Linked DNA regions of Homo sapiens: region 2 is linked to region 1. A link means that fine-mapping ties the variant in region 1 to the expression of a gene that starts in the linked region. Tissue or cell type: whole blood. Region 1 holds a variant in brackets; the other region holds the start of a gene. All regions are shown on one strand. Distances are between the middles of the regions.

Evidence for each region. PIP is the estimated chance that this variant, and not a neighbour inherited with it, causes the effect.
Region 2: it holds the start of STX10, and the variant in region 1 is fine-mapped to the expression of STX10 in whole blood (INTERVAL, PIP 0.93).

The regions. Positions count from the first base shown.
Region 1 is chr19:13,110,910-13,121,200 of GRCh38, forward strand. TRMT1 (tRNA methyltransferase 1) reads right to left here and starts at 5,831. Exons shown (of 17, transcript NM_001136035.4): 1 at 5,744-5,831; 2 at 5,237-5,522; 3 at 5,088-5,143; 4 at 4,717-4,859; 5 at 4,370-4,557; 6 at 1,987-2,102; 7 at 1,796-1,908. The coding sequence starts at 5,490. NACC1 (nucleus accumbens associated 1) reads left to right here and starts at 7,355. Exons shown (of 6, transcript NM_052876.4): 1 at 7,355-7,545. RefSeq lists enhancers at 5,825-6,014, 6,975-7,124, 8,400-8,901, 8,902-9,402 and silencers at 7,165-7,364, 7,915-7,964. The variant C/A (reference allele first, on the strand shown) is at 5,177.
Region 2 is chr19:13,145,121-13,152,288 of GRCh38, forward strand. STX10 (syntaxin 10) reads right to left here and starts at 5,255. Exons shown (of 8, transcript NM_003765.3): 1 at 5,019-5,255; 2 at 4,608-4,777; 3 at 4,379-4,473; 4 at 3,909-3,971; 5 at 168-275. The coding sequence starts at 5,053. IER2 (immediate early response 2) reads left to right here and starts at 5,291. Exons shown (of 2, transcript NM_004907.3): 1 at 5,291-5,432. RefSeq lists silencers at 4,766-4,815, 4,856-5,015, 6,566-6,925 and enhancers at 5,136-5,335, 5,356-5,425.

The DNA of each region.
Region 1 (10,291 bases):
ACTGCACTCCAGCCTGGGCAACAAGAGTGAAACTCCATCTCAAAAAAGAAAAAAAAGCAAAACGGCTAGGGCTTTCCTGCTAGTGTGAGACTCTGATATGGGAAAGGAGACAGCATTTCCCGGGCTGACTTCATGACAGGACCCTTTAGGAACAAGGGCAAGAGCCCTCTGTGGACCACGCTGGAGTGCAGTGGCACTATCAAAGCTCACAATAACTTTGAACTCCTAGGCTCAAGTGATCCTCCTGCCTCAGCCTCCAGAGTAGCTGGGACCACAGGCATCCACCACCACACCTAGGTAATTTTTAGGGTTTTTTTGTAGAGATGGGGTCCTCGCTATGTTGCCCAGGTTCCTGACCTCAAGTGATCCTCCCACCTTGGCCTCCGAAAGTGCTAGGATTACAGGCATGAGCCGCTGCACTTCGCCACTCAGCCTTCTTGAATCCTGATCAGACACTCAATAGGGTCAGACCATTTTTTTTTTTTTTTTTTGAGACAGAGTTTTGCTCTTGTTGCCCAGGCTGGAGTGCAATGGTGCCATCTCGGCTCACCGCAACCTCCACCTCCCGGGTTCAAGTGATTCTCCTGCCTCAGCCTCCCGAATAGCTGGGATTACAAGCACCCACCACCACGCCCAGCTAATTTTTTTTTTTTTTTTTTTGTATTTTTAGTAGAGACGGGGTTTCACCATGTTGGCCAGGGTGCTCTTGAACACCTGACCTCTTGAACACCGCCCACCTCGGCCTCCCAGAGTGCTGGGATTACAGGCGTGAGCCACCGCGCCCGGCCTATTTTTTTTTCTTTTTTTTGAGACAGAGTCTTGCTCTGTCGCCCAGGCTGGAGTGCAGTGGCACAGTCTCAGCTCACTGCAAGCTCCACCTCCTGGGTTCACGCCATTCTCCTGCCTCCGCCTCCCGAACAGCTGGGACTACAGGTGCCCGCTACCATGCCTGGCTAAGTTTTTGTATGTTTAGTGGAGATCAGATTTCACCATGTTAGCCAGGATGGTCTCAATCTCCTGACCTCATGATCCGCCCACCTCGACTTCCCAAAGTGCTGGGATTACAGGCGTGAGCTACCACGCCCGGCCTATTTTTTTTCTTTTTGAGATGGGGTCTCCCTCCCAGGCTGGCGTGCAGCGGAGTGATCTTGGCTCACTGCAACCTCGCCTCCTGGGTTCAAGTGATTCTCCTGCCTCAGCCTCCTGAGTAGCCGGGATTACAGGTATCTGCCACCATGCCTGGCTAATTTTTGTATTTTTAGTAGAGATGGGGTTTTACCATGTTGGCCAGCTGGTCTCAAAGTCCTGACCTCAGGTGATCCACCTGCCTAGGCCTCCCAAAGTGCTGGGATTACAGGTGTGAGCCACTGCGCCCGGCCTTCAGACCATCATTGTGCCCATTTTACAGATGCAAAAAAACCCGAGGACCAGAAAGGTGAAGTCACTTGCCCAGAGCTACCAGCAAAGCTAGGATTTAAACCCAGTCCTGGAAAAACGACCTTTAAAAAAAAAATTTTTTTTTGAAAAGTTGTTTTAATACAGAAAACTAAAATAATGTGGCCATGCACTCCTGTCCTGGCCAAAGCCACTGTCCCCAAATGACCATGATTATCAGCCATGCTCTTAGGAACTATGTGGGTTGAAGACACGCCTGTCGTTAACAGCCTGGGATGCATCTGGCCATCAGCCTGGAGGAAGCTGAGCAGGTCTGAGGAGGGGGAAAGTGTATTGGGAAGGGACTCAGACAACCACCTGTCCCCCGGTCTCCCTGGCTGGCTGGCAGAGGGCCCCTCACCATCTCGTGGCAGGCCCGGCTCTTGAGGGCCATGGCCCCGTACTTGCTGTAGCACGTCTCCCCGCTGTTCCCCGCCAACACCGCCATGTCTGTGCAGGTCACACACAGCAACCCTGCAGAGAGGGGCTGGGCAGTGAGAACCCTCCAACACCCCAAGCCCTGCTCCCACCCCAGTGCCATCCCCACCTCACCTCCTTCACTCACAGCCTGCACAGCTGCATCCAGGAAGGTGGCTGGGCTGCCATAGGGGTCCAGATCGATGACGTCAAACCTCTCCGACACCCTCTGGTGCTGGTACATCAGCATCCTGGGTGCAAAGAGGGCCAGGTCCTCAGCCTCCCACGCCAGGTACCTTCTCTGTCCCCTACACATATTAACTCGTACAGCACAGTGGTTTGGGTCTGAACTCCGGGGCCAGATTCCCAAGTTCAAGTCCTGGCTCAGTCATTTATTTATTTATTTATTTTATTTTTGAGTCGGAGTCTTGCTCTGTCAGCCAGCTGGAGTGCAGTGTTGTGATCTCGGCTCCCTGCAACCTCCGCTTCCCCAGTTCAAGCAATTCTCGCGCCTCAGCCTCCCGAGTAGAGTAGCTGGGACTACAGACATGTGCCACCACGCCCAGCTAATTTTTGTATTTTTAGTAGAGATGGGGTTTCAACATGTTGGCCAGGCTGGTCTCAAACTCCTGACCTCAAGTGATCCATCCACCTCGGCCTCCCAAAGTGCTGAGATTACAAGTGTGAGCCACTGCACTGGCCTTGGTCATTTATTAAACTGCACAATTTTCCTACTTAGGAAAAGCACCATGTGGAACTCAGTCCACACATCTAAAACAACAACAATACTGATATAAGACGTATCTGCCTGACACCATTTCAAGCAGTTTATAGATGTATTAACACATTTTTTTTTTCCTTTCTTTGGAGACAGAGTCTCGCTGTGTCACCCAGGCTGGAGTGCAGTGGTGGGTTCTCGGCGCACTGCAACTTCCACCTCCTGGGTTCAAGCGATTCTCCTGCCTCAGCTTCCCAAGTAGCTGGGATTACAGGCACGTGCCACCATGCCTGGCTAATTTTTATATTTTTAGTAGAGACGAGGTTTTACCATGTTGGCCAGGCTGGTCTCGAGCTCCTGACCTCAAGTGATCCGCCCACCTCGGCCTTCCAAAGTGCTGGGATTACAGGGGTGAGCCACTGCGTCTGACCTCATTTTAAAATTTTTGTAGAGACGGGTTTCACTGTGTTGCCTAGGCTGGTCTTGAAATCCTGGCCTCAAGCGATCCTCCTGCCTTGGCCTCTCAAAATGCTTGATTACAGGCATGAGTCACCATGCCCAGCTAATTACTTTTCATTGTCTGTGATTACTATTTGGATTCTAGTAAGGTCAGAAAAGTAAAAACTTTTTTCTCTGTAAAAGGTCAGAAGGTATTTTAGGCTTTGTGAGTCATATGTGGTCCCTACTGCATAGTCTTCTTTTTTAACCTTTAAAAATGTAAAAAACATTCTTGGGTTGTGGGCCATTGATAAACTAGGCTAGGCCGGGCGCAGTGGCTCACGTCTGTAATCCCAGCACTTTGGAAGGCCGAGGTGGGCAGATCACTTGAGGTCAGGAGTTTGAGACTAGCCTGGCCAACATGGCAAAACCCTGTCTCTACTAAAAATATAAAAATTAGCCTGGCATAGCCAGGTGCAGTGGCTCATGCCTATAATCCCACCACTTTGGGAGGCCGAGGCGGGCAGATCACGAGGTCAGGAAATCGAGACCATCCTGGCCACCATGGTGAAACCCCATCTCTACTATAAATACAGGTGGGTGTGGTAGCAGATGTCTGTAGTCCCAGCTACTCAGTCGGGAGGCTAAGGCAGGAGAATCACTTGAACCTGGGAGGCGGAGGTTGCAGTGAGCCAAGATCACGCTAGTGCACTCTAGCCTGGGCAACAGAGCGAGACTCCGTGTCAAAAAATAAATAAATAAATAAAAATAAAAATTAGCCAGGCGTGGTGGCACGTGCCTGTAATCCCAGCTACTCGGGAGGCTGAGGCAGGGGAATGGCTTGAACCCGGGAGGCGGAGGTTGCAATGAGCTGAGATCGTGCCACTGCACTCCAGCCTGGGCAACAAGGGCGAGACTACATCTCAAAAAACAAACAAACAAGCAAACAAACAAAAAAAGGCTGTGAGCCCCACAGGCTATAGTTTGCCAACTCTTGCGAAGGTCACCAATTTTGCATGTTTTGTTTCCTGATGCATTTCCAGTTCTTGAAAACGGTGCCTGACACATAGCAGACACTGGATATACTATGGCTCATTTGAATGAATAAAAGGAGTGTAAGAAGTTAAAACAGAGACCAGGATGCTACTTATTTCTGGCACAGAGTATGGATCATACCATAATTATCTATTACTCATCACAGCAACCCCTGTAAAACTAATTTTCTCAGTTGACAGACAAGGAAACTGGGGCTCAAAGAGGCTAAGTCACTCACTCAAGGTCACAGAGTGAGAATGTGACAGAGCCAGAATTTGACCCCAGGCAGGCTTGTCCCAGAGCTAGGCTGTGATGCCCAGAACCTACCGGGCATCTGCTTGGCTCGGCTGTACCAGGTGGGCCACGTCATTGAGCTGGACATTCCGGCGTATGAGATCCACAGCCCGGGTGGAGGCATCGTTTGCAACCACAGATCTGAGCCCAGGCACCTCTAGGGCAAATCGAATGGAACGTAGGCCTGAAGCTGCCAGGCCTTCCAGCACATGCAGGCCTTCCTGTTGGAGTAAGCAGAAAACCTCCCTCACATCTCCACCTCCATCCTCTTCTGGGCCCCAAGGAGCCCCCACCACCCACCTCCTATAGCTCTCCCCCTCCAGGAGCCCTCTGTCTCCCGCTAAATTCCAGGGCTGCCAGCTCCTATGCTCAGGCCCCACCTCACAGATCTCCCCCACGGCCGCTGTGCGAGGTTGGTCTCCTGAGGCCAGGTTTTCACTCTCTTTCAGTTCAACCTTTTCCTCCTCTTGCTCTGACAAGTCCACGACCACTTTTTGCGTGTCCTTCTCTCCTGGAACCTTGACTGCAGCCACCCAGAGGCACAAGTCAGAGAATAACAAGGTCCCCTCTGAGAAACCTCCCCTTAATCTCCAAAATATCGTCCCTGAAATCCCTGCGGAAAGGCTGAAGGAGCAGAACCCAGGGCCTGCTATGTGGCTGAAGCCCCTCTGGATTTGGGCGGCAGAAGAGCCCAGGCAGGGAGATAAACTTGTGTGACCCCCGCCCACCAGAAGCCTGGACCTCCACTCACTCTGGATTCCTTTGGCCCCAAGCTGAATGCGAGCAAACTCGGTGATCACAGCACATCTGGTGGGAGACAGAGGACTAGCTCATACCCCG[C/A]CCCCGCCATCCACACTGACCCACTAGCCGATGCCAGGCTAACGTCTGACCCCTGCTCACGTCAGGTCCCGATTGAATTCCTGCACCGGGTTATAAAAGACCTCGTTGGCACTGGGAAAGGCGATTTTGGCAGCCCCCTCGGTGACTGTCGTCTCCTGGACTTCACGTGGACGTTCTTCTCCGTAGGGCCCGGTGCCGTTCTCCATCGCTGCTGTATTCGGCAGCCCTGGAGACTGCCACTCGAAAAACCGGGCTCTAGAGAGCACCCGGGCGGAGCGGAAAGTGAGGCTTAGCCACAGAGACGATCCTTGCATGAGACATCCGCTGGCGCCTCCGCCCGCCAAGCCTGGTTCGGGGGGCGGGGGAGGGCACAGAGAGGGTCAGAGAGCCGCATTCCGGGCCCGGGGATGTCCTACATATCTATGAGGTAGGGACTAGGAAAACCTGCGGCCTCGGTAAGCTGATATCCCCTCGTTTTGGGGATGACTGGTCCCTGTGGAGCCGATGCCCTCGTGCAGGCCCGCCCCGAGTCCGAATCCCTCCCCGCGCTGCCTAGCCCGTCCTCACCTGCTCTCGTAGCCACAGAAAACCGAATTAGTCAAGGTGCACGTTTCCCGAATTAGGACCTGGGCGCCGCCATGTTGGCACAGTGGGTGGGCGAATCACATGATAGTGGTTGGCCAGTCAATGAGGAAACGTACGGTGGGCGGCCGGGATCAAAATGAAAGCCATAAAGGAAGCGCGCTGATCGTGCTGTTCCGGGGGTGTTAATCACAGTGGATCCCCTGGGAGAGGACACGTCCCTAGTCCCATTTCACAGATGAGGAAGTTGTGGCTCAGAAAAGGGGCGGTAAGCGGAGAAACCCAACACTTATTGGTCCTCTTCTGTGTTCTGGGTGCTATATACACATTATTTCAGAGCACCCTGCAGGAATGACTCAGGCTCTGGAGTTGGATTTACCGGGTTTGAATCTCAGTCCCATCACATGCTCTGGGCAGGTTACTCCCGCGGCTTCACTTTTCTTACCTATTAAATGAGAATCGTGGTTTCTCAGATAGAGCAAAGATTAAATGACAGATTCCTGGAAAGTGTGCAAAGAACCACTCTAACATTGTAAGCGCTCGGTAAAGTTCTAACCAGTGTATGAAGGCAGGACAGCGAAGTGGTCCCGGCTACCTGGGTTCCAGTCTCAGCTCGCCCTGCGACTTGTTAACTCTGAACTTAAGTTACCGCTTTTGCAAAATGGGCAGAACTTTTTTTTACCATTTGTTACTGGGTTGTAGTGAGAAGTAAACGAGTTAGTGCAGGTAAAATGCTAACAGAACCTAGCATCCGGTAAGCATCATAAAAGTCTTAGGTCTTATTGTCGCTTTTGAGCCTGTGTTTAAATCCTGGCACCTACCATCACTTCCTTGCTGTGTGATGATCTTGACCAGCTTTCTTCATTTCTCTGTGCCTCCTTTTCTTTCTTTCTTTCTTTTTTTTTTTTTTTTGAGACGGAGTCTCGCCCAGGCTGGAGTGCAGTGGCATGATCTCGGCTCACTGCAACCACCGCCTCCCGGGTGCAAGCGATTCTTCTGCCTCAGTCTCCCGAGTAGCTGGGATTACAAGCGCATGCCATCACGCCCGGCTAATTTTTGTATTTTTAGTAGAGACAGAGTTTCACCATATTGGCCAGGCTGGTTTCGAACTCCTGACCTCAGGCGATCCACCCACCTCGGTCTCCCAAAGTGCTGGGATTACAGGCGTGAGACACCGCGCCCAGCTGCCTTTATTTTCTATAGTGTGTCTGTAGCAGTTCTCACTAAAAAATGTTACTGTGTAGTTTAAACGAGCTAATTCCCATAAAGAATGTAACGCAGTGCCTGCCACAATAAACAGCAGTCATTATTGTTTTTGTTTTACAGGAAACTAAAGTTCGGAAAGGTAGAGCGACTTGCCCAAGGTCGCGGGACTAGAAGGTGGCGGGGCCAGGATTCGAACCATCGAGCTGAGCCGACGTACTGGCGAGGATCCCCCAGGGGCATAGAGAGGAGACGGAGCCGGTTAGAAGGGGCGCGCTCGGAGCTCGGCTGGCCTCGCCTGGAGGGCGGGGCCCGAGGGCGGTGCGCGGGCGGGGCCGGGGCCGCTCCTCCCTGGCCTGGCTGCGGCGGCAGCGCGGCTTGCGCTCGCTCGGCGCTCGGCTGGGGCGGCCTGGCCCACAATGAATGGCCGCCGCGGCTGCCGCTGCTGCTGAGGCGGAGGCCGCGGAGGCCGCGGAGGCGGAGGCCGAGGCCCCGGCGCAGCGGGGCGCGCCCCGGGCCCAGGCCCGGCCCCAGCCGCCGCTGCGGAGCCCGCCGGGACCCCCCGGAGCGCGGCCACGGCGCAGGTGAGGCGGCCCGCCTCAGGCCCGGTTCCGGCCTCCTCCAGCCGGGGCGGCCCGAGGGCTGAGTGGGGAGGGCCTGGGTGCTTTCTCGGACCGAGGAGGAGCCGGGCCCGCAGCCTGCACTGTGCCCGGGCAGGCGAGTGTGTGGAGGCCCAGCTACCGCGGGCGGCCTTGAGCGTCCAGCCCGAGCTTCAGGGCTTGGGGGCGGCAGGATCGTACCTGGACCGCTCCCCCGTCTCCCAGCGAGGGAGGGGGCCAGGTCGGGCCGGGGCAGGTACCGGGGATCCGGGGAAGTTGGAGGGTCCGAGGCGGAAAAGTGAGGAGGTTCTCGTGGATGCCGGAGGGGGAGGGGGAGGGGGAGGAGGAGTCGGGCTCCGGCCAGGCCGAGTGGGGGAGGAGAGGAGAGCGGCGCGGCCGGAGGGGGGCGGGGAGGGGCCGGGCCTGCAGGTACCGCCTGGGCGCTGGAGGAGGTGGGTGGGTCAAGTTACAGGCCTGGGGGCGGCTGAGGAGAAGCCCAGGAAGTGGGGCACGGCGGGTGTGGGCGGAGTTACTTCGTGTGGGGGCGGATAGGAGATCCCAGAGATGTTTTCCGGGGGTCACATGAGGTCAGGACTCAGATGTGGGGAGGGGGAGGCTAGATGTGGGGGCGATCAGGTAAGGTGAGGGACTGCTGTAGGAGTTTTGGGAGTCGAGAGAGCAGAGCCTTTTGGGCTAGGCTAGGGGGGATGTGGGGGCAGGTCAGGAAAAGCTGGTGTGACCAGAAGGTATATACTAAGATGCGCCCCCCACCGCCCCCAACTCAAGTGTTAAGGGGTTCCGTCTTTCTCACACCTCATCCCTGAAGCCTCTAGAGTCCTGACCCTACCCCTTGGGCAAGCCTCTGCCAACTGTTCAAAGGCACTGGCCAGTGGGTGTTTGTGTGGGCAGCTGGAGACAGTCTGGAACACCTAGCTTAGGCATCTTGTTTATCACAAGGTGGCCCTTGCCCACCCCCACCTTATATATCTACAGGGAGGCAGCCCAGCAGACGTTACCTGGGTATTTTAGGATCCTGCATTCTTTCTCTACCTTTTGTGGCCAGAAGCTGGTGGTTCAAGCCTAGTGGATGGGACCTCACAGCAACCATCGTATATATTAGTACCATGGCCTCCCAGGCACCAACTCCTTGAGCCTGAGTTCTGTGTGCCATCTCCCTGGGGGTGAAGAATTAGAGGGAATGAGCATGTAAAACTCTGTTGATGGTGGTTTGGAGGCTCCCGACGGGGTGAAGGCAGGGCACAGAGAAGAGTTAAGGGGATCAAATCAGGCACTCACACCCTGGCCCAGGGATCTACCTCTGGGACACTCGTCCTGGGCCAGGCCCTGTGCCGAGCTCGCTGGTCGGATGAGCTCATTGATGGCTCACCACCACCAGTTCAACTTAGGCCTTCTCTGGGGTCCAGACGAGGAAGCTGAGGCTCGGGGTGGTGTGGCTTGTCTCAGATCACATGAGCAGACAGTGGCTGAACTGGGATTGTCTGACCCTCAGCCCAAACCCATAGTCACTCAAGTGGCCTTCCAGGAGGGTGACTGAAGGAGCTCCTCGTTCTGGATTCCCTGGCGGGCGTTCTCCTCCGTCCAGGCCTTCCCTTCTGCTCACCCCGGGGGATGGGTCAATCCCCTTTGGGACAGACTGAGTTTCCATGGTGTCCCCGGGGAATGGAACAGTGGAGGTATCTTTCTCGGAGGCCTGGTCACCCCTTCTTCCCCATTTCCCTCCTGGGAGCCAAGAGGTCAGGAGTCATGGAACTGTGGGCTGACCGTGGGAAGCTGAGGAGGCCTGGCACCACCAGGGCTGGACTTGACTTTGCTTGCCTAGACTGTTTTTGCCCCACTTTGGCCCCCAGTCGGATGGCAGCAGCTTTTGTTCCTTTCTGGGCTAATTGCAAGGCTGTTACCAGGGTGTCCTTGGGACTTTGATTTGGGATCTTCAGCACCTGAGGCAGGAGCCACAAACTGCTGGGTCAAGTGGTGTCAGCCAGTTCTGGGTTTAATGATGGGTTGTCACCCTAATTCTCCCCAGTCTCCCTATAGTTCCCAGGACACCCTCCAACCTGGGCCCTGCCCTTCTTGCCTGTCTGGCTAGCCACTTGGTTCTAGGAGGAGTAGGAACTGGGCCAGCAGTCCCGCAAAGAGACTGAACCATCCTTCCTGGCTGGTTGGGCCAGGATTGCTGCAGGTCTGCTTCAGCACAGACTGGGTCCTCCTGGACCTAAGCTGGGTTGGATACCAGGGATAGGGGATTGGTGGTACCATCCAGTCACTTAGCTGAGACTGTTGGGAGTTGGCCCTGGTGAGTGGGGGACAGGCAGTGCCTCAGGCAGCTCCGGTTTGTGCCTAGAGGTAGAGGAGAAGGCACCAGTAATAACTGCTTTTCGGTGAGAACTTAGCATGCACAGACTCTGTGGGGGCAAGTGCAACAAGTAGGCAGCCCGTTGAGACAGTTTTATTTCACTGCTGGGTGCTGACTCCCCGCTGGGGGCTGGGGAAGCATCCCGGAGTAACAGATCCAGAGCAGCTAGCTCTCAAGCGACCAAACTTTCACAAGCAAAGGATCAAGATAATTTCACATACTTCTGTGTTTACAAAGATGGTGTAGCAAAGTGAAGTCATTATGAGCCATGAGGGGATGGGGAGGTTTCGATGGGTGGCCGGAAGTGTTCCCGGAGAGCTAAGATCTGAATAATAATGTTAGCTAAGGGGTGGGTGG
Region 2 (7,168 bases), 33 kb after region 1:
CCTGGGAGGCGGAGGTTGCAGTGAGCTGAGATCGCGCCACTGCACTCCAGCCTGGGCGACAAAGCGAAACTCCATATCAACAACAACAACAACAAAAAGGGACCCCAGACCTCAGATCAGTCTGCAAGGCTCTCCCCTCCCAAGATCCACCCCGCTGGCCCCAAAACCTGCTGTGTGGCCTGCTGCTCCTCGATGTAGCGAGATGTGGCCGAGACTGCGCTGGCATCCAGCAGGTCGCTGGGTGACTTCTGGGCAGCTGGCTTGCCTGCGAGTATCTGCAGGGGCACACAACATAGGCTCAGGGAGAGACCCCAACTCACAGCGGGGCCTGTGGGGCAAATCCCCACGGTGGTAAGTCAGGGGGGCAGACTCTGGGGCAGGACAGCCTGCATTCCCCACTCACCACTTACTAGCAAGGTGACCCAGAGACCCCATCATTTGGCTTCCTTGTGCCTCAGTTTCCTCATCTGTAAAATGCAGAGAGCAGGATGGGGCATGGTAGCTCATGCTTGTAATCCCAGCACTCTGGGAGGTGGAGGTGGGCAGATAACTTGAGGTCAGGAGCTCGAGACCAGCCTGGCCAACATGGTGAAACCCCATCTCTACTAAAAATACAAAAATTGGGCCGGGCACAGTGGCTCACACCTGTAATCCCAGCACTTTGGGAGGCCGAGGTAGATGGATCACGAGGTCAAGAGTTTGAGAGCAGCCTGGCCAACATGGTGAAATCCCGTCTCTACTAAAAATACAAAAATTAGCCAGGCTTGGTGGCGGGTGCCTGTAATCCCAGCTACTAGGGAGGCTGAGGCAGGTCAGAATCACTTGAACCTGGGAGGCTGAGGTTGCAGTGAGCCGAGATCACACCACTGCACTCCAGCCTGGGTGACAGGTTAAGACCTTCTCTCAAAAAAAAAAAAAAAAAAAAAAATTACCGGGTGTGGCAGTGCATGCCTGTAATCCCAGCTACTTGTGAGGCTAAGGCAGCAGAATCGCTTGAACCTGGGGGGCGGTGGTTGCAGTGAGCTGAGATCGCACCACTGCATTTCCAGCCTGGGTGTCAGAGTGACCTTGCCTCAAAAAAAAAAAAAATAAAATAAAATGGGAAGAGCTAGAATCCGTGTTTCCTGGGTTGAAATGAGGATTTAAAGAATTAATTGATGGGGGACACTTACAGCAGTGCCCAACACATAGTAATGCTAGTAAATGTCACATTTTACTATTTGTTTATTTTTGGGGGGATTTTAGCTGGGATTACAGGCACCTGCCACCACATCCAGCTAATTTTTGTATTTTTACTAGTGATAGGGTTTCCCCATGTTGGCCAGGCTGGTCTCGAACTCCTGACCTCAAGTGATCCACCTGCCTCAGCCTCCCAAAGTGCTGGGATTACAGGCGTGAGCTACCATGCCTGGCCCAACAGATGTTTGTTTGTTTGTCTGAGACAGAGTCTTGCTCTGTCACCTAGGCTGGAGTGCAGTGGTGTGATCTCGCCTCACTGCAACCTCCACCTCCCGGGTTCAAGCAATTCTCCTGCCTCAGCTTCCCAAGTATCTGAGATTACAGGTGATCACCACCACGCCTGGCTAATTTTTGTATTTTTTGTAGAGACAGGGTTTCATCATGTTGGCCAGGCTGGTCTCGAACGCCTGACCTCAGGTGATCCACTTGCCTGGGCCTCCCAAAGTGCTGAGATTTTAGGTGTGAGCCACCGTGCCCGGCTCCAACAGATGTATTTTAGAGTTTGGACTTGAATTCCCCCAAGGCAGCACATCTGGAAGGCACGTGGGCACTGCTATGGGATGACAAACTGGGAGGAGCCTCAGTCCCCCACCCTCCCCGACCCCACGTACGCTTATGAGGGAGAGAGAAAGGCTGGTGGTTCTCAACATATGAAAAATATCAACAGAGAACACCAAGAGAAAAAGTGGACTGACAGAGGTGGTTGGGAGAAACACAGAAACACACACACACACACACACACACACACACACACGGCAGGCACATTACAGAGGAAACTAGCAGATATTAGGATATGAGGGGGGAAAATGCAGATACACTCAGAGGCCAAGTGCACGCACCCAAATAGGTTAGGTGCATGCACAGATGAAAAGGCGGGGGCGGATCACCTGAGGTAGGGAGTTTGAGACCAGCCTGGCCAACATGGGGAAACCCTGTCTCTACTAAAAACACAAAAATTAGCTGGGCATGGTGGCACACTCCTGTTGTCCCAGCTACCCAGGAGGCTGAGGCAGGAGAATTGCTTGAACCCGGAAGGTGGAGGTTTCAGTGAGTCAAGATTGCACCACTGCACCCCAGCCTGGGCAACATGCCAAGACTCCATCTCAAAAAAAAAAAAGGAAGCTGGCCGGGCGCGGTGGCTCACGCCTGTAATCTCAGCATTTTGGGAGGCTGAAGCTAGTGGATCACAAGGTCAGGAGATCAAGACCATCCTGGCCAACATGATGAAACTCCGTCTCTACTAAAAATACAAAAATTGGCCGGGCGTGGTGGCTCACACCTGTAATCCCAGCACTTTGGGAGGCCGAGGCAGGTGGATCACGAGGTCAAGAGTTCAAGACCAGCCTGGCCAAGATGTTGAAGCCCCGTCTCTACTAGAAATACAAAATTTAGCCACGCATGGTGGTGGGTGCCTGTAATCCCAGCTACTCGGGAGGCTGAGACAGAATTGCTTGAACCCGGGAGGCGGAGGCTGCAGTGAGCCGAGATCACGTCACTGCACTCCAGCCTGGGCGACAGAGCAACACTCCGTCTCAAAAAAAAAAAAAAAAAAAAAAATTAGCCGGGTGTGGTGGCATGTGCCTGTATTACAGCTACTCAGGAGGCTGAGGCTGGAGAATCGTTGAGCCCAGGAGGCGGAGGTTGCAGTGAGCCGAGACTGCGCCACTGCACTCCAGCCTGGCAACAGAGTGAGACTGCATCTCAAAAAAAAAAAAAAAAAAAAAAAAAAGGAAGTTATGTGCGATGGCTCACGCCTGTAATCCCAGCACTTTGGAAGGCTGAGGCAGGCAGATCAGTTGATGTGAGGGGTTTGAGACCAGACTGACCAACATGACAAAACCCTATTAAAAATACAAAAATTAGGCCAGGCGCAGTGGCTCATGCCTGTAATTCCAGCACTTTGGGAGGCTGAGGCAGGTGGATCACCTGAGGTTGGGAGTTCAAGATCAGCCTGACCAACATGGAGAAACCCCGTCTCTACTAAAAATACAAAATTAGCCAGGCATGGTGGCGTATGCCTATAATCCCAGCTACTCGGGAGGCTGAGGCAGGAGAATTGTTTGAACCCAGGAGGCGGAGATTGCGGTGAGCCGAGATTGCACCATTGCACTCCAGCCTGGGCAACAAGAGTGAAACTCCATCTCAAAAAAAAAAAAAAAAAAATACAGAAGTTACCCTGGCATGGTGACGAGCACCTGTAATCCCAGCTACTTGGGAGGCTGAGGCAGGAGAATCGCTTGAACCCAGGAGGCAGAGGTTGCAGTGAGCTGAGATCAAGCCACTGCACTCCAGCCTGGGCAACAGAACAAGACTCTGTCTCAAAGAAAAAAAAAAGAGTAAAAGGCAGGCATGCGTCCTGGAAACAGGTGCACACAGGACAAATGGCATGGAAGCAGAAAGGAGATAGGTACACAGGCCCCCAGCCCTCTCCTGCAACAGGAAACCAGTATAGACCCAGAGGACACAGTAGAGAGGAACCCACGGACATATACACATAGAGAGGTTCAGGTGCACACACCGAGAAAGTGCAGGCAGGTAGACAGCAAGAAGATAACTGCCCACAGAGAGGACGGGCACTGTCGCAAAAGGGACAGGTGAACACGCACAGAGGGATCTGGCTTGGTTACCCCCAGGGGCTCAGGTGGGCAGGGTGGGTCAGGAAGGCTTACCTCTCTGTTATTCCTCTCCAAAAATGCTACGGCTGTTGGGCTGACCATATGGTCCTTCATTTCCTGGAGGTAAGGACAGCATTAGGGAGGAAAGACACTCAGGCTGGGCGCGGTGGCTCACGCCTGTAATCCTAGCACTTTGAGAGACCAAGCCGGGTGGATCACCTGAGGTCAGGAGTTCGAGACCAGCCTGATCAACATGGTGAAACCCCGTCTCTACTAAAAACACAAAACTTAGCCGGGTATCGTGGCAGGCACCTGTAGTCCCAGCTACTCAGGAGACTGAGACACAAGAATCGCTTGAGCCTGGGAGGCGGAGGTTGCAGTGAGCCGAGATTGCAACACTGTACTCCAGCCTGGGCGACAGAGCGAGGCTCTGTCTCAAAAAAAAAAAAAAAAAAGAAAGAAAGAAAGAAAAAAAAACACACTCAAACCTTCCCCCACTCCCCGCCTGCAGGACCTTTCCTGACCTGGACTGCCTCTCGCATCCGCTCCACGAACACCTTTCTCTCCTGCAGGTCCCCGGCTGGGAGCTTGAACTTGCCTGGGTTGGCTTCCACTATACGTGGGCTGAGAGTCAAGGGTCAAGGCCGGAGCCAGATATCATCCCCGTCCCTAGGGGTCCAGCCCTACCCGAAGGTGGGCTGCCACCGCAATGGGCTCTCCCATGCCACCCTCTGCCACAAAGCCCCAGGATATCGATGGTCTCTTCCAGGTCCTCGAGGTCCCACTCGATGCTGCGCAGGCCATTCCGCAGCTCATTGGTCGTCCAGTCCAGCTCCTCGCGTCCGACCGCCGCGCTTTCCTGCAGGAGCTCGCACCAGCGCTGGTACAGCCCGCGGGCCGTGTTCACCGCCTTCTGCACCTCGCTGCGGGCAGGGGCACGGCGGGCGCGGCTGGGGGCAGGCGGTCCTCCCGCCTGCCTCTGCCCCCGACTGCAAACCCAAACGCATGGGGGACTCCGGAGACCCCTATATACCCCTGCGTGCGCCTCCCACTCTGCACCCCGACGGCCTTGCCCAGCCCGCCGGGCACGCTGGGGCCGGCACCCGGGCACTGGCTGGCTTGGGTACAGAGCACCCTCCGCCCTCCCCCGTCGTTGTCACTCACCCTCGGACTACAAAAAAGGGGTCTTCGAGAGACATGTCAGTCCCTTCCCCCCCAGGCCGAACCCCCCTCCCGGCCTGGGTTCGCGGGCTGGTTCCCTCCCAACCGAGGAGAACGCGCCGCCACCCCCGCCCCCGTCACGCCACCATCGAGAGCCGGACCGCCAGGGGAGAAAGAGAAGCCTCGGAGGCCCGACGTGCGGACACTTCCGCCCTCTCCTCAGCCATCTTGGTTGTGGGCAGAGGCAGCTTCCGGTGCACATGCCCCCGCCCCTTAGCCCTCTCGTGCCGCACCGTAGGGGGCGGTGTCGGAGTTCTGTCTGGGCCTATTCGGGTCCGAGTTCGGAATTTCGGTTCAAGGCCCAGTTCCTCGGATTGTTCCTGCGCAACTTCAGTTTCCCTTCCAGGCACGGGCAATGTAAATAATGATAGCCTCCCTCATCTCTGGCGGCTGGGTATTATGGCTGGGGAAGGGGCTCATTCGATTCGTTGAAGCTTTTCATGGACTCCCTGAGCTGGCACCTGGGAGATCGTCCCATCCCAGGGTCCCGAGTGTCAGGTTTGGCTAGGGTCTGGGGGAGAGGTGGTCCTCCCTTCTCCCTGCGGGGGCGCGGTGAGGAGCGGGCCTGCTCCTCCGGGGAGTTCTGCCGCATTCTCCCAATCTCTTTCCTGAGAAGTGGCGGAGTTGGGGGCACTTCGAGGTCGCCTTGGGGCGAGGTGGTCGTGAGGGGGTCCCAGATATGCCAGCAGCGGGGGGAGGTCACCTTTGAGAAAGTGCGTGGAGGTGGGTTTCTTCAGAAGCGCGGAGTCTTTCTGGGTGCGAGCCTGGGGGTAGCGGGTGGTGGCTTTGAGGATGGTCTCCAGGGGGGCCCTCTGTGTGTGGGGTCTCCGTCTGGGTAGGGGCCAGGAATATCAGCGGAGGGACTCAGGGTCGTCCCTATGTGTGACAGTGGCGCTGTGTGTTGGGGAGCTTCGGGAAAGCACTTTTTTTGAGTGATAGGGGGCCTGGTCTCCCCTGGAGGGTGGGCGGGTTATCTGAGGGAGTCCTCGGAGGGTCGCCCCCTTGCGCGTCAGAGTTGCTGCGTGGGGTCTCAGAGATAGCGCCTGGGCTGGGGAAATCATTGTGGGGTCTCCGTGGTAAGGTTAGCGGGGTGGGGACGGCCTGCGTCTTCGGCAGGTCGTCGCAGTCTGGCACCATCGTTGAATGGGGACGAGTTTGGGAAGGGTATTTTAGGGGGGAATAACTTTTGAGTTCCCAGCGTGCGGGGGAAGGGCGGGACGGGAGGGTGTCCCAAGGCCTGAGAAGATCAGTGTGGGGCAGGGGTCAGGAATAACCTGGGAGGGGGCCTTGTATGGGGGAAATAATTGGGAAGAGGAGAGATGGGATGAAGGGGGCCTCAGCGGGTCGTCTCCTGTGTATGCAGGGTCGTTCTGCAGCGTCTCTGGGAGATGGCGTCCCTGGGAGCCCTCAGGTCGCCCCTACCCGCTGCGGGGTGCTTTCCTGGCGTCACGCCTTCCTGGCCCCTGGAGGGAAGGAAGTGAAACTCTCCTCTTCCCCCACCCGGCTGGAATGCGAGTCAGGAAGCCTGGGGCTCCAGCCTGCTCCGGCTGCCCGGGTCGGGGATGGGGAGGGGCGTGGCCGGAGCGCAAAGCCCCGCCCCTCCGCGCCCCCCCCCCGGAAGCCCCGCCGCCGGCCGCTAAGGCGATCACGGGCCCTGTCCTAATATGGGCAACCGGAAGCGGCCCGCGCGACTGCCCTACGTCACTCCGTCCAAATTTAGTTGTGGAAGTCAGCGGGCGCTGGTGGCGGGAAGGCGCCGCGAGCCAGTGCGGGCGGAAAGGGGGCGGGGGGCGCACCACCCCTTAAAGGGCCCGCACCAGGAATGAATGGAGCCATTCGAACAATTCTGCATCCTATTTTTGGAGGAAGTGGAATTAGTATTTCTTGGAGAGACGGCGCGTAGCGGAGGGTAGGGCGGAGATTTTCTATCTGCTCTGTCTCTGCATTGCTGGGTTTCCAGCTCCCAACCTAACCCCGCCTCCCCGAACGCGGAGACGGAACTCGGCCCCCTTGTTTGGGGGGCGGCAGCCACGTGTTCACGGGGACTGTCGTGCGCGCCGGGTTCGCAGCCGTGCGAGCTCTGAACCCACCCG